2 separate regions of the Homo sapiens genome follow, and region 1 is linked to region 2. The links come from fine-mapping of genetic effects on plasma protein levels. Region 2 holds a variant in brackets. A gene starts in the other region. All regions are shown on their reverse strands.

Region 1 (5,373 bases), not on the chromosome of region 2:
CTGTAAGGATGTGCCACCACTCCCAGCTAATTTTTGTGTGTGTGTATATCTATCTATATATATATATAAAAATTTTTTTTTTTGGTAGACATGGGGTTTCACCATATTGCCCAGGCTAGTCTTGAACTCCTGGGCTCAAGCGATCCTCCTATCTTGACCTCCCAAAGTGCTGGGATTACAGGCATGACTCACTGTGCCCGGCCCATTTTATTTTTTTTCATGTAACAAACAATGCTGCAATGAATCACTTTGAGCCTGGAGCATCTTTTTGCCTTCTCTCTCTCTCTCTTTTTTTTTTTTATATGAAGTCTCGCTCTGTCACCAGGCTGGAGTGCTGTGGCGCGATCTAGGCTTACTGCAACCTCCAACTCCCTGGTTCAAGTGATTTTCCTGCCTCAGCCTCCCGAGTAGCTGGGATTACAGGTACATGCCACCACGCCCAGCTAATTTTTTGTATTTTTGGTAGAGACAGGGTTTCACAGCGTTGGCCAGGATTGTCTCAGTCTCCTGACCTTGTGATCCGCCCACCTCAGCCTCCCAAAGTGCTGGGATTACAGGTGTGAGCCACCACGCCTGACTTTGCCTTCTCAAAAAAACAAACCTGCAACATACACACAACATAAAATTGAACATTTTAGCCAATTTATTTATTTATTATTATTATTTTGAGATGGAGTTTTGCTCTTGTTGCCCAGGCTGGAGTGCAGTGCCGTGATCTCGGCTCAACTGCAAACTCTACCTCCCAGGCTCAAGTGATTCTCCTGCCTCAGCCTCCCAAGTAGCTGGGATTACAGGCATGCGCCACCACACCCGGCTAATTTTGTGTATTTAGTAGAGATGGAGTTTCTCCACGTTGGTCAGGCTAGTCTCAAACTCTGGACCTCAGGTGATCCGCCCACCTCAGCCTCCCAAAGTGCTGGGATTACAGGCATGAGCCACCGCGGCCGGCCCAGCCATTTATTTTAAATTATTTTTTAGAGATAGGGTCTTGCTCTGCTGCATAGGCTGGAGTGGAGTGGCACAATCACGGCTCACTGCAGTCACAACCTTCTGGGCTCAAGGGATCCTCCCACCTCAGCCTCTGAAGTAGCTGGGACTACAGGCTGAAGCCACCATGCCCAGCTAATTTTTAAATTATTATTATTATTATTATTATTATTATTATTGAGATGGAGTCTCGCTCTAACGCCCAAACTGGAGTGCAGTGGCATGATCTCAGCTCACTGCAACCTCTGCCTCCTGGGTTCAAGCGATTCTCCTGCCTCAGCCTCCCTAGTAGCTGGGATTACAGGCACGTGCCACCATGCCCAGCTAATTTTTGTATTTTTAGTGGAGACGGGGTTTCACCATGTTGGCCAGGCTGGTCTGGTACTCCTGACCTCGTGATCCGCCCACCTTGGTCCCCCAAAGTGCTGGGATTACAGGCATGAGCCACCACGTCCAGGCTGAGCCACATTTTTTTATTCGTTAGTCAGTTCACACTGTAAACATGCAAATATTCAGGCAGGGATTCCCAGAAGTGGACTTGCTGTGTCAGCAGGCACATGAGTTTATCATTCCGGTGGCCTGTGCCAGGGTGCCCTCCACCAGTGCTACACCATGGACGCACCCCACAGCCTGGCTGGCACAGAATGTCATTGCATTGTTGGATTTTTGCCAATTTGATTGGTGAAGACAAACAGTTTGTGATTTGCAGTTTTCTTATTAAGTGTGAACTTTTTTTTTTTTTTGAGACAGGTCTCACTCTGTTGCCCAGGCTGGAATGCAGTGGAGTGATCTTGGCTCACTGCAGCCTCCACCTCCTGGGTTCAAACAATTCTCCTGCCTCAGCCTCCTGAGTAGCTGGGACTACAGGCACATACCACCACACCTGGCTAATTTTTGTATTTTTTAAAGTAGAGACGGGGTTTCACCATGATGGCCAGGCTGGTCTCGAACTCCTGGGCTCAAGCGATCTGCTCACTTCAGCCTCCCAAAGTGTTGGGATTACAGGTGTAAGCCACTGCACCTGGCAAGAATGAGCATCTCTGGACATGTTGAAAAGCAGTTTCCCGCTTTTTCTTCAAGGTCTCCGTTCAAAGCCTTTGACCATTTCTTGGAGTTTGGCGATGTGAAGGACAGAGGCCGAAAAGAGGGGAAAACGTGGGGGAGTGGACTCCCAGCCTCCCAGATCCCGGAGAAGCCTCTGTGCATTTGACAGCTGTGGACATGGTGTCACACGCAGTTAAGGTGGCACAGTGAGTCGGGCTGGCATAGGTTGTACCTGGTCCACCTGACACCAGGTTCAGGTGAGGCCTTCTCCCAGCCCACCCCTCCTCAGTATCATTTTTGTCACTACTACCCCTCCAGTCTGCCTCAGGCCCCCATCTGCTTCTGGGACCTCAGCCTCCTCCCCAAGTTGCCCACCCCAGACACCAGGCTCACTCCAGAGGGACTTCTTGAGCCAGTGCCCCTCTGCCCACGCACCTGCCTTGGCTCCACATGGACCTCTTCCCCCACCACCAATTCCTTCTATCCTCTCCACTCCTAACCATGCTATCCCAGCCAGCTACATTTTCCCAAGCTGCTGGGAGCCCTCCTCACTGTCCCCTCCAGCATAGAGGTGCCACTGTGCAAGAACTCAGTGGGAGAGGCTTGGAGGAGCTTGGAGAGCCAATGATAGGTTTGGGGAATCTTAGTGAACTCCTACTCATGCGTTGAAGCCCCAACTGTAATGCCTCCTCCTCCAGGAAGCCTTCCAGGACCCTGTCTTTCCCTCTGGACCTTCCTTAACTGCATGGGACTAGGAGTGTCTATGTCCAGCTCTGTCCTCTCTTAAGATAGCTCCTTGAGGACCTGGTCAGGGCTGAGGCCTCTTGGGGGCCCAGCGTGGGTGATGCTTGTTGAATGAATAAATGACTGCATGAGCTGGGAACCAGCCAAGCTGAGATCAAGAAGCGAGTTGATGAGGTGGCAGTCGGTTGGGGTGCTAATAGAGGACATGAAGTCACTGGGTTCTAGCAAGAGGGAAGCGGGACTCTGGTCCACCCCTCCCTCTTGCCCTCCATCCACCTCTGGTGAGAACCTTGAGGCCCTGCAAGGGGGCGGATCTCTGTCTTCATTCTTCCCCTCTGCACTCCACCCAGACACCAGTTCCTCTTCCCCCTGAGTCGCTGGGTGCAGAGCCAGAGGAACGCCAGCGACCCCAGCAGCGCTGCGGACGGTGCTGGCCGTGGCCGCTGCGGCCCCCGTGTCCAGGTGGGCCAGGACGCAGCCTCTGGGCGCCGTCGCTTTTCCAGCATCGCAGAGGCAAAAGCGTGGCAGTGGGACCCAAAAGGTAGGACTGAGGCTCTAGAACTTGCACCTGTGCAGGGACTGCAAACCAGACCTGGGAGGACCCTTTCAGCAGCCCCCACTCCACCCTATCCCAGGACTTCCCAGCGACCCGCCGTTCTGGGAGATACCGGGAGCGTGATCAGGGGGCGGGGCCGTTTCCAAGGCAACCGCTTATTTGCATAGGGTCCCGTCCTGGCCAACGAGGGCGCCCCAAATGTTCAGGACATAGAAGAAGGGGTTAACTGGCCCGGATCTCCTCCTCGCCTTCCAAGCCCGCTAAGCACTGGGGTTATCTACCCATTCCCCAGAAGGGGAGACTGAGGCAGCCCACCAGCCAAAGGAGGCGACCAGACTGGGGCTGCGTTTTACCATTTCAGAAGCGGCTTGAGCTGGTCTGAGCTATAATAATAAACACTGGCGGTGGAGGCGAGGGCGACCACAGGGCTGAGGTCAGGGCTAGGATTCCGGTGTCTCTACGTAGGTTGCTTGAATGGGGGGCACCCTGGCATGGACGCTGCTGTTGCCGCTGCTGCTGCGGGAGTCAGACAGCCTAGAACCGTCGTGCACCGTGTCCTCCGCGGATGTGGACTGGAACGCGGAGTTCAGTGCCACGTGCCTGAATTTCAGTGGCCTCAGCCTGAGCCTGCCTCACAACCAGTCTCTGCGGGCCAGCAACGTGATTCTCCTTGACCTGTCTGGGAACGGCCTGCGAGAGCTTCCAGTGACCTTCTTTGCCCACCTGCAGAAGCTTGAGGTCCTGAACGTGCTACGCAACCCCTTGTCTCGTGTGGATGGGGCGCTGGCCGCCCGCTGTGACCTTGACCTGCAGGCCGACTGCAACTGTGCCCTGGAGTCCTGGCACGACATCCGCCGAGACAACTGCTCTGGCCAGAAGCCTCTGCTCTGCTGGGACACAACCAGCTCCCAGCACAACCTCTCTGCCTTCCTGGAGGTCAGCTGCGCCCCTGGCCTGGCCTCTGCAACTATCGGGGCAGTGGTGGTCAGCGGGTGCCTGCTTCTTGGACTTGCCATCGCTGGCCCTGTGCTGGCCTGGAGACTCTGGCGATGCCGAGTGGCCAGAAGCCGGGAGCTGAACAAACCCTGGGCTGCTCAGGATGGGCCCAAGCCCGGTTTAGGCTTGCAGCCACGGTACGGCAGCCGGAGCGCCCCCAAGCCCCAAGTGGCCGTGCCATCCTGCCCCTCCACTCCCGACTATGAGAACATGTTTGTGGGCCAGCCAGCAGCCGAGCACCAGTGGGATGAACAAGGGTAAGTAAGCCACTGAGACACCTGCCAAAGTGGTGAATAATAAGGCTCCACACCCAGATGGCCGAGGTTCAAATCCCAGCTCTGCCGCTTGAAGGCTGTGGGATCTTAGGTGAGTAGCTTTACTTCTCTGAGCCTCAGTCTCCTCACCTATAAAATGGGGAGAGGACTGGACATGGTGGCTCACACCTGTAATCCTAGCACTTTGGGAGGCCAAGGCAGGCGGATCACTTGAAGTCAGGAGTTTGAGACCAGCCTGGCCAACACGGTGAAACCCAGTCTGTACTAAAAATACAAAAATTAGCCAGGTGTGGTGGCGGGCGCCTGTGGTTCCAGCTACTGAGGAGGCTGAGGCAAGAGAATCTCTTGAACCTGGGAGTCAGAGGTTGCAGTGAGCCAAGTTCATGCCATTGCACTCCAGCCTGGGTGACAGAGTGAGACTCCATCTCAAAAATAAAATCAATAAAATAAAGTAAAATGAGGGAGAATTACAGCCCCCATCATAGTGTGTTGGGGTAAGAATTAAGTGAGTTCCCATATATGGGACAAACTTCCCCCCCTTATGACCTGTAAACCCAGTTTCTGGCGGCCAAGGATGGGGAGACAGGAGGCAACTGCTTGAGCGGAGTTGGGGCTCCGCGGTGGCGGTCAGCAGCATAGGCCCAGGTCCCATGTGACCCAAGGCTGTCTCTGAACCTCCATTTCTGTCTCCATAGAGTGGGGACAGCCCCCCATTTCCCCATGACACACATGAGATACTAAAGAGGTGCCCTACAAAGTCCCATCACCACT
Region 2 (5,316 bases):
TAGGAGACCTGGTTTATAATTGGTGCATTTGCTTACTAGCTGTGGGATTTGAGCACATCATGTAATCACATTGAAGTTTCTTCATCTATAAAATGGAGGTACTAGTCTAGAAATCTTTTTTTTTTTTTTTTTGAGACAGAGTCTCCGCTGGAGTGCGATGACGTGATCTTGGCTCACTGCAACCTCCGCCTCCTGGGTTCAAGCGATTCTACTGCCTCAGCCTTCTGAGAAGCTGGGATTACAGGCATGCGCCACCACGCCTGGCTAATTTTTGGTATTTTTAGTAGAGACGGGGTTTCACCATGTTGGCCAGGCTGGTCTCGAACTCCTGACCTTGTGATCCGCCCACTTCAGCCTCCCAAAGTGCTGGGATTACAGGTGTGAGCCACTGCGCTCAGCCTAGAAATCTTTAAGGTGCAATAAGGTTTTTTTGTTTGTTTGTTTGTTTTAACTTCTTGAAAAAAAATAGAGACAGTGTCTCACTATGTTGCCCAGGCTGGTCTCAAACTCCTGGCTTCAAGAGATCCTCCTGCCTCAGCCTTCCAAAGCGCTGGGATTACAGGCGTGAGCCACCATGCCTGGCCATGCTTTAGATTTTTGATTCAAGACCAGAAAAGAGCTTGCAAATAAAAAATTTGAAAGTTGTATCTTGCTCCCATTTCAAAAGGATGGGAGCTTCAACAGAGACAAAAATATTATGAAATCTTCAAATTGTCATTCAAATTTTATTTATAATACATATTCCTGATTTTAAATGCGTTGCGCTTAAAGGAGAATAAGGTTTACATTTTATTTATTTATTTATTTAGAGATGGAGTCTCGATCTGTCACCCAGGCTGGAGTGCAGTGGCACAATCTTGGCTCATTGCAACCTCCGCCCCTTGGGTTCAAGCGATTCTCCTGCCTCAGCCTCTCCAGTAGCTGGGATTGCAGGCATGCACCACCACGCCTGGCTAATTTTTTTAGTATTTTTAGTAGATACAGGTTTTCACCATGTTGGTCAGGCTGCTCTCAAACTCCTGACCTCAAGTGATCCACCTGCCTCCGCCTCCCAAAGTGCTGTGATTACAGGCTTGAGCCACTGTGCTCGGTCACGTTTTTATTTATATGGCCAGTGTTCCTTCGGTCTTTTGTCCTGTGAACAGAGCGGTTCACAAGAGTGGGTGATATAACACATCTCCATTTTACCATTTTACAGATGAAATTTTTTTTTTAATTTGACATTTAAAACCGTAAAGAAGTTTGTCCCATTTTTTCCACTCTTTTCAAAGCAACTTATTTAGTATTGACCATGCAGTGTTTATTCGTAAAAATAAAAGTTAAGAGACGTACATACCGGGAATCCTGTTGAGTGTCACCCAGAAATGTTCGTCGGGGCTGTAGGTGTCCTTGGACCAGGAGAGTAAGTCAAGTGCGAGCTGGTCTTGGAGGACGAAGTTAGCAAAGTCCCTTGTGAGAGCCACGTAGGCCGTGCCAAAGTAAATCACCATGTCATGAGGAGGAGGAGTTTTTAATTTTGTTGTTTTAATCACGTAGGAATTTTTGTGGTTTAACAGTTCTTGGTGGACGTATTTAGTCCGTCCAACAGCGTGGTCAGGAGGCAGCACTCCGGGGGTGATATTTTTCCCTTTAAATCCCTTCAGATACTGAACTATTTCCCTGTTGGTTTTCAGGGGAAAGTCTTGCCCGCAGGTGTTGATGACATACTTCCAGGGAACTTCAGAGGCCACAAGGTCTTCCAGGCAGTTCAGGTCAGCCTGGAGCCTGGAGATCCCCCCATAGACAACCGACTCCTTCTTGGAAGCCAGAAAAGCATTTGGGAAGCAGCTGAGTAACTGTTTCACTGCACCTTTAAAGGCATCCGTCGCCTTCTGATCCAGGTGCACACAGTAGACATTTTGGGGCATATAAATCGCCCTGAAGAGCCTCTCAAAAGTGCCGAAGTCTTTGTGGATG[G/C]TCACTGTGTAAGCTAAAGGGAACCCAGCCTCTTCTTCAGAGAGTGTTTCTGTTACATAGTGGCTTCGAACCATGTACTCATAGCAGGTAGCTTCATCAAGGGTAGTTTTCAATGCATTTTCTGTTGGGTAAAAAACTTTCCCCTCAAAAATCTGATGACAGGCTTCTGCTAACAGTGAAGCATTGGACAGAGCTGCCCTCAGAAAACGTTTATTCTCCCATAACTCAGTATTGTAAACAAATACAAAAATCAGGGCAGAGATAAGAGACGCGCTAAAAAGACAGTGCTTCCAAGAGCCCATCATTCACAACCAGGAAATGAGTAAAATATCTCTCTCTTGAGATAGGATCAGAGTGTAGATATATTTAACTTACATTTTCTCCAGGTTCCGAAATCATCCTCGTGATGGCTGAAGCTCTCGTCTGGCTGTTCCCTGTCCCTTCAGTTCACGGTTCTGGTCCTTTTTCTTTCTTCTTCCCCTCTTCACTTACCACTAGGTTGCATTTTCACTTTTCTGTGACACATTTCTGAAGTGGCTCCTTTGCATTTGGCTTGCCTGTTCTCCTGCTAACCTGCAACCTGTGTCTACACAAAAACAGATGTCCTCAGAGAGGTTCTGATTCCAGGGGGTCCACCTGTTCCCACCATGAAATTACAAGTGGGTGAGGTGACCATTCTGCAAGTCATCGGCTCTAAGACCTTAACCTCAGCCTCTTGTCCCGGCCAGAGTCTAGTAACTATGTCCCCTCCCCTGCTTCCTGTTAATCATTGTGTTCAACAGCCTGAGTTTATTTGCTTAAACTGCACTGCCAAGCTACGAGCTTCAGTTTAAAGCATGTGAATACTGCCTGGAGAGATATTCTATCAATAAATATGTAGTGCTTTAAAAAAATTGCTTAACCCTGTCTTTTTCCACAGCCACACCTCGCTCTCCCCATTGGCTGGGTATGCTATACGACATGGCATATGACTGGCTACTGGGCTAAATTCTTTCCAGGGCTTAATTTTGTCTGCTGCTGGGTAAAGTCCTTTAAAATGCCCATTAATTAGCAAGCTTACCTCACCACCTAACTTACTGCACAAAGTGACTGTGGCACTCGGATGAATAAAGGCTAACTTCTTTTTTTAAAACAACAAAACGACCAATAGCCCATCATCACCCAAAATTGCATACAGGCTAACATAGTGAATTTCAAGTTTATTTTGCCCTGGTCCGCATAGGATGCAGACAGAGAACCCTGATGCTTAGAGGAAGGAGAGAAGAGCATCTCAGTCTTGAATTTTAGGAGAGAGGCTCTTATGTCCAGATTTACAAATGCTTTAAAGGAGGCTTTTTTTTTAATCTGTAAAAAATGAGAATAATTTTACCACCAGAGGTCAATTGTGAGAATAAAATGAGATAACATATACAGAGTCCATCGCCGTGTCCAGGAACAGATTGGGGTGGTAAAGCAGCAGCAAAATGGTACTAAACAAGAAGTCCGTTCACACACACGCATGCATACACACGTATCTCTTACCCCACACTCATACTTCTAATAAATGACACAATTACCTCTCCTTTGAAATCTTCTTACTCTTCCCTTACTCCCTCCTCTGTGAGTCCATGCCAATCAGATTATACATCTAAAACGTCAGCGACGAGTTTTGTATGATGTGGTGGTTAGCTGCACCCGGTGTGAAAGCATGTTCCATTGGCGCCGAGCTCATGTATTCCTCATGTTTCTGGCTCCTAGCATTGTCTGTATGTAGTAGACAAGCAACTTTTTATTTTATTTTATTTATTTATTGAAACGGAGTTTCGCTCTCGTTGCCCAGGCTGGAGTGCAATGGCACGATCTCGGCTCACTGAAATCTCTGCCTCCCAGGTTCAAGCGATTCTCCTGCCTCAGCCTCCCAAGTAGCTGGAATTACAGACACCTGCCACCATGCCTGGCTAATTTTTGTATTTTTAGTAGAGACGGGGTTTCACCATTTTTGAGCAGGCTGGTTTCAAACGCCTGACCTCAGGTGATCCACCCGCCTCGGCCTCCCAAAGTGCTGGGATTACAGGCGCGAGCCACCGCACAATCAACTATTTATTGATTGAATGCTCAAGTTTTCATTTCCCTGCTTCCCTGATCACATTAGTGAGAAATTCCAGGTAATACTGATTTGTAGGAGATATATATTTGTATCTGTGAATGTGGTACAGTCAATAAACCTAATTTTTCCAATGTATCTTCTAACTTTTATTAAATGTAATTAATTAATTAATTTACTCTTTTGTAGAGATGGGGGTCTTACTGTGTTGCCCAGGCTGGTCTTGAACTCCTCAAGCTATCCTCCTACCTCAGGGTCCCAAAGCTTTAGGATGACAGCTGTGAGCCACTGCACCTGGCTCATTTTCTTAATCACAAAGACGACATAATATCGTAGATAGTTTCTAAACACAATGTTTCCACGTCCTGTACTTTCATTTACCTCTTGCCTATAGGAAATACACATTCTTATTTTATCAAGAACACAGGGGAGGCTGGGTGCAGTGGCTCACGCCTGTAATCTCAGCACTTTTGGGAGGCCAAGGCGGGAGGAGCTCGAGGCCAGGAGTTTGAGACCTGCCTAGGCAACACAGCCAGGCCCCATCTCTAATAAAAAAAAAAGAACGCAGGAAGATGCAAGCTTAAATCCTGCATTCTGCACTTACTATTATACAATAACATTTTCCATAGTGCTTCTTGGTGTGCCTTGGGTATTATCTTCACAATCACTACTTTAGAACCTGGAGTTATTCCTGTTGATTTTTCCGCTAACCCAGCTAAAAGCGAACACATTGAGACGGCAGCCAACCCCATTTCACGGTGTCAGGAACACAGGAAATGATGACAAGAAAGGACACAGGGAAAATTCTCTAGAACACAGTGAGTCAGTTCTCAGTTGCTTCTGGAATCAGATTCTACAGCGTGACTCAGGTACACCCAGTTGTGCCTATAGGGCCCCCAAAATAGAATTTAATCAACCCAAATATCTATTTTCTTAACTATCTTTCATGCGTCTATCCAGAATTCTTTTGAACAAATCACTTCTTCAATACAGAACGCATACAAAATCAATCTTTTCTGAAATGACTAAAATTTCTCTAATTTTTAGTTGACTTTTAACGTCTCTTTAGACCCTGTCCATATCAAATGAAATACTATAGGAATGATTAAATGAAAATGTCAATGCTGAATTATGCTTATCTAAACTAGTCAAGTAATTTTTACCATATTTTCTCCTAATTTATCCAGACAATTACATCAGGTGTTTGTTTGACTCTTACCTCATTCTTGGCCTAGTTCTATCCCTCCAGACATTGCAGACATAGAAGCATCTTGAAT

Direction of the effects. Positions count from the first base shown, and alleles are read on the strand shown. Strength reflects both the effect of a copy and how common the allele is.
With allele C in place of G in region 2, the plasma level of the protein whose gene starts at base 3,147 in region 1 is higher (weak association).

Evidence for each region. PIP is the posterior inclusion probability: the model's chance that the variant is causal. The UK Biobank Pharma Proteomics Project read protein levels with antibody pairs (Olink). The fine-mapping took linkage between variants from a reference panel, not from the people measured, so its PIPs are less certain.
Region 1: LRRC25 starts here. The variant in region 2 is fine-mapped to the plasma level of the LRRC25 protein (UK Biobank, PIP above 0.99).

Annotation. Positions count from the first base shown.
Region 1 is chr19:18,395,396-18,400,768 of GRCh38, reverse strand. LRRC25 (leucine rich repeat containing 25) reads left to right here and starts at 3,147. Exons shown (of 2, transcript NM_145256.3): 1 at 3,147-4,584. The coding sequence starts at 3,806.
Region 2 is chr6:10,525,857-10,531,172 of GRCh38, reverse strand. GCNT2 (glucosaminyl (N-acetyl) transferase 2 (I blood group)) reads right to left here. Exons shown (of 5, transcript NM_145649.5): 2 at 3,513-3,699; 3 at 1,337-2,542. The coding sequence starts at 2,261. Among named protein-coding and RNA genes, the nearest start is that of GCNT2, 7.2 kb to the right of the region's middle. The variant G/C (reference allele first, on the strand shown) is at 1,957.